Regions from separate parts of the Homo sapiens genome. Here region 2 is linked to region 1. A link means that fine-mapping ties the variant in region 1 to the expression of a gene that starts in the linked region. Tissue or cell type: caudate. Region 1 holds a variant in brackets; the other region holds the start of a gene. All regions are shown on one strand. Distances are between the middles of the regions.

Region 1 (2,683 bases):
AAGTATGTTTATTCAAGTCGATCGCAGCCTCCATTTCCAAGTCTCTCATGATAAGGGCATTTTCTCACCTGGTATGGAGAGGTTACCCCTCCCAGAGGAATCTTTATCATAGGCTACATGCAGGAAAAGACAGGTCAGCTCTCCCTTTCTGAAACTACAATTTCTCCAAGTGTTTTCAACTCTAAATAATCAATTAACGAGATGGCATATTTGAGGATGGGACAGCCTTCACAACTTCAAATTTCAACATATTTTCCTGAGGGATATAACTCAAATGGCTGGAAATTTTTCTCACTCAGAAAAGGTTTGGGTGTTTTTCCACTCTCTACCATAAGTAACCAATATCAGCTACCGCTTTTGGAGAATTTACCACATGCCAAGCCCTAGGTCATGTTCCTGATATATATTCTTTTATTTAATCTTCATAGAAATACTTTGAAGTAAACATTATTATATGCCTAGTTTACAACTGTCAAAATAAAGGCCCAGCTCTGCCTCCTTCCAGCACCCATATTCTGAACAACTTACCATACCTAACACATACATCACTTATAGAGTACCTGCCATGTGCCTGGTGCTACGCTAGGCCCTGGGAACAAATGTCATCCTGCCCTCAGGGAACATGAGTCTAGTGGAAGGAGATATGCATCAGAGATATAATTTCCTAAATATCAATTACTACCTCCCAGTGTCATAGCATCATTTCCCACAAGGAATTCTTTTCCTTTGCTCTCATTGCCAGAGGTCTGTTGAAAGAACAGTGGATGCTGAGATGAAAAGCAGTGCAAAGTCCCTCAAAAAGGGGGTTCCCTCACTTCTACTTTAATCAGAGCTCCAACATGTCGACAGGTTGGAGCTCTGATTAAATTGGAACTGAGCATCTCTGGACATCTTTATTGAACAAACAAAATGTTTCTTAGCCATATTATGCTGAGGAACAAACAACCCTAAAATCTCAATGCCTAAAGCACAGTTTATTCTGTGCTCTGCACCATGTGTCTCTGACCCCCACATCTAGGGACTGTGCTCTATGTCACCCTCACACTGGATGCAGGCTAATGAAGTAGTCTTATCTGGAACTCTACAGGTTATGTGGCAAAAAGAAAAAGAGAAGATGGTAAATCACACTGACTCTGAAACACTCCCACCCAGAGGTGCCATGTTGCATTTTATTGGCCAAAGCAGGTCACCGGGCTGTGCTTTATTTCAACAAATCATGGAAGGGCAGCCTGCCTTGTGCTTGCAAGAGAGAACAGAATATATTTACAGAACAGAATGAATTGCTTCCACGAAGGACAGAAAGAAGTTTTAACCCTGTTCCAGGATGAACAGCCCATAACAAATATGCCTTTCAGACCAAATGAAATAAGTATTTGAAGGAATAGATCAGGTACTCCGTGCAATTTTTGTTAAATGACCATTCCCTTCCCTCTCTGC[C/G]TACTTAACCCAAAGCTCCATGCAGCAGAAGCCATGCCCCTTCTCTGGCCACTCATTTGGTCAGTGGGCCCTGATGACCAAGCACTAGCTAAGAGAGAACCTGTGGTCTTTTTTGGAAATGAAAGTAGGAAAGTCCAAATGTGAAAGCCATGAATCAGGGGACAGTGATGTATGTTCCTGAGCAATTCCCTGTAGCTTCCCTTTAAACAGCAACCTCCTGAGTACACATACAATATAATTTTAGATATAGATATTAGGCCAGGCACGGTGGCTCATGCCTGTAATCCCAGCACTTTGGGAGGCTGAGGTGGGTGGATCACTTGAGGTCAGGAGTTCAAGACCAGCCTGGCCAACATATAGTGAAATCCCATCTCTACTAAAAATACAAAAAATTAGCTGGGCATAGTGGCACATGCCTGTAGTCCCAGCTACTTGGGGAGCTGAGGCAGGAGAATCACTTGAATCTGGGAGGCAGAGGTTGCAGTGAGCAGAGATCATGCCACTGTACTCCAGCCTGGGTGACAGAGTGAGACTCCATCTCTCAAAACATATATATATATATACACACACACACAAAGAGAGAGAGAGAGAGAGATTTTATTTACTCACAACTTTTCAGGAATAAACTGTATTTTATGTAAAGCAAGACATCTATTTGTTTAAACCCTGGATTCCATAGGTAGGTAGCATGCCATATCCACCATATATTTTTCCATCCCTCAAGTTCCAAAATTGATTCCCTGAAGTAAACAGGAAAAACTTGGGAGAAGTAATCAGTAGCTAAAATTATTTTTGTTTTTGTCCTGTTCCAGTTAATGGCTATTAAAAGCAAGATTTCCATGACTGCTTCTATTCCAGATGCCCATGTTCTCAGCTCTAGGAGTAGCAAAAGAAGTTGCATTCTAATGACTCAGAGGAGTCATTAGCCTTGATGAGTGTTCAGATTGCAGTAACTCACTGCAGGATGTTTAGTGCCTTGGGATCCCCGGGCAGCCTATAATTTGCTCAAAAGCTGGAAATGTTTCTGCACCTCTGCAGAGCCTGGCCTGCGGCTTCCTGTGTTTTCCCACCTTCCTGCCTCCCATTGTGCCTCAGAGCAGGATAATACCACTTTAAACATGTCACATTAGCTGTCAAAGGGGTTTTGACTCATTCTCAAGGAGAGAAGATTGAAACAGACCCAGCTGTGGAATACAGAGAGCTCCTTGGCACCTAAATGACTACCCCAATCATCCGTAAAGAGCTG
Region 2 (2,683 bases), 280 kb before region 1:
ATAAGTCGTCAGTGTTACAAAAATGAGATCCATATTAGGCACCTTGGAAAAAGGCTTCCTTCCCAGTTCAGGCACAGGAAAGGACAAGTTACCGCTTGACTTTATTTAACTAGGAAAACTGCAAGTGAAACAACCTTTTCGTACGCAGATGGGGTGCAAACACTTTCACAAATAAACATAGTGGCTTCTGGGGGCATTTTCTAAGTTCCTTCTCCCCACTTCACCTCCAATCCACTCCTGACAGACTTCATGGTAGGCACGGTTATAAACCTGTCACAAATACTCGCATGCACAAGTAGGATCTTGAAACAACATGCAATAAATATCCTGATACTACTTTGACATAGGGCTTTTGACCACAGCTGACCTCATCTATAAATTCAATTCTTTCTCACATGACCATGTGATGAGGATTCTGGCACTGGCCTACCTGTTCCTAAGGAGTGCACAGGGAGCCCTCAAATTTAGTTTCAGGAGCTGAGAGAAGCAAGCCCTATTCCAATACCTACACTGAGCTGCTTAATTCTTACTGGTGTCACCCAGTGGGCAGTAAAACAAACAGGATTTTTATCAGCTGCTTTCTCCTGAGGTGCTGGAAAGCAAACCTAATTTGTATTCTGGAGAGGAGTGGTGGTGTTCCTTCATCTGAACAAGTCTTCTCCCGCTCCTTTTAAAACTTTAAAACTTTTATTTAAAAGTTAACTCGTGATGAATGCCTACAGGCAGAAGAACTATTTGCTTACAACAACTGTTGTTAGTTCAGACTGTAGTGTCTAGGGTTAGCACCCCCGGAACGCACACGGACAACCACTCCGGAGAAAAGATTCTATTTCCCAGCCTGTATTTGCTGCACTTTTGCACTTCTCTTGCTTGCTTAGGTGTGTTCACAATCACATGCCCAGGGTTAAAACTTAATATTCAGAACTTGATGGAATCCGGTATATGCAAAACTCAAGGAAAAGAAGTAGTGGTGGTGGTGTGTTGGGGGGGTGCATGGGGGTGTAGCCATCGCCCCCGCCGAAGGACAGCTTGCCGAGAGCCGGCTCTCTCTGCTTCCCAACCAACATCCTGCACCCAAGACAGCAGGATCTTCTTTCCCCATCCGTTTCATGGGTGACACTGCATGAATCCAAATGACCTGCAGCCCCCGCCGTCTCCCCAGAGCTCCTTCAGGCCCCCAGCCCGTGTCCTGGAACCCCGAGGACTGCCCTGGCGAAGTCCTGCGGTGCCTCCGGCAGCCCGCAGTTACCCTACCCCGCGCATACCCGGCCCTTTGTCCCGCTCCTCCCGGCGCCTCGCCTCTCCCGCGCCCGGGCGGATGCCCCAGTCGGTGCCCGCACTCACCCGCGCCGAGCAGCCCGCCCGGGCCGCGGCTCGCTGCGCCGCTCAGACAGGTGTGGGCGCCGGGAGAGAGCGCGCGGCTCCCATGCCTGCCCCGCCGCACAGCCGAGTGCGAGCAAGCTGGCGAGCAGCGCAGGCAGCTGGCGGGTCCGCCCCCCGCGCCACCCGAGGCCCGCCCGCCCCGCCTCCGGCCTCGGGGAAGCCGCGCGGACGCCGCCCGCCCCACTGCACATAAACCGTGCCCCCCTCCCCTCGCCGCTCGCCTGCGGCCGGAGCAGGGTGGAGCAGCCCAGAGGGCCTGAGGCCGAGCGTCCCTGCGCAGGTGGGCCCCGGTGGCGCGGCAGCAGTCGCCAGTCCGGGCCTCTCGGCGCCAGGCAGCACCGGCTCTGGCGGGCTCTCCTGCCCGGGACCCGCGCGCCGTCACCCTTTGAACACCGCGCATCCCCGGGTCTGGCGCGCGGCCTCCTGAGCGAGACTACGGCCTTCGCTGCTGGGAGCACGCTGCCAGCTCGCAAAAAGACCAGGTCCCCTACAAAAGGCGACCCCTCCCCCAACAGCCTAGAACTAGGGACGCGGGCCACACCTGGTGTATGGGGAGCCCTGGGCAAATTTGAAGAATTGGTTCAGAACCTGTGTGCGCCCCACCCCCACGTACACTTTTAGCGCCTTAAGGTGCTGACCGAACTCCTAGTTTCTCCGGTGCCTCCAAAGAACAGAAACCTGTATTCCCATGGCAGGGCCACCAATGCTTTGCATTTCCTTACAGCACTCAGTGCTGTGCGTGGGGCCCAAAGCACCGGGGGTGCTTGGCAGCTTCTGAGCGGCGGTGGCTGGGGAGCCCACTGGCCTCAGTTCTTCATCGGGGCACCAGCTGGTGGAGCCACCTCCTTGTCCAGTGGGCCTACTTCCCTGAATCACTCCAAGCGGTCGTTATCTTGGTGGTGGTGGTTGGGGGCCAGGGTAGGGGGGTGTGCGGGGAGTCCTCTCCTAACCAGGCTGGAGACCTTGCCATTTAAGGTCCTAGTGTTAGAGCCTTCCTATTTAGTATAGATTACTGTGTATTGAGCGTTTTCGGTCAAGAGCTTTACATATAGGCCATTGTGGTGAAGAAGGTGCAGAGATTACACTAATTTTTATAAGGAACAGGAGGTTTGGAGAGGTTTTATGACTTGCCCAAAATCACACAGCTACTGAATGGTAGGACAAGATTTTGCACTGAGCCATGCTTTCTATCAAGCTACTTAGCTTTCCTTTCTCCTATCAAAGTCTACTCTCAGAAAGGGAAGGTCTAAAGTGCTATTTCACACCAAGGTGTTACTGATATGCCTAATACGTTGGTGTT

Which allele goes with the higher level. Alleles are on the strand shown, and positions count from the first base shown. SD is a standard deviation of normalised expression in the study named.
As copies of G replace C in region 1, the expression in caudate of the gene that starts at base 1,454 in region 2 goes up (small effect, 0.36 SD a copy in GTEx).

Evidence for each region. PIP is the estimated chance that this variant, and not a neighbour inherited with it, causes the effect.
Region 2: it holds the start of PRSS23, and the variant in region 1 is fine-mapped to the expression of PRSS23 in caudate (GTEx, PIP above 0.99).

What each region holds. Positions count from the first base shown.
Region 1 is chr11:86,515,701-86,518,383 of GRCh38, reverse strand. The region is part of intron 4 of ME3 (malic enzyme 3); the gene reads left to right. Among named protein-coding and RNA genes, the nearest start is that of CCDC81, 140 kb to the right of the region's middle. The variant C/G (reference allele first, on the strand shown) is at 1,438.
Region 2 is chr11:86,799,313-86,801,995 of GRCh38, reverse strand. PRSS23 (serine protease 23) reads right to left here and starts at 1,454. Exons shown (of 2, transcript NM_007173.6): 1 at 1,345-1,454.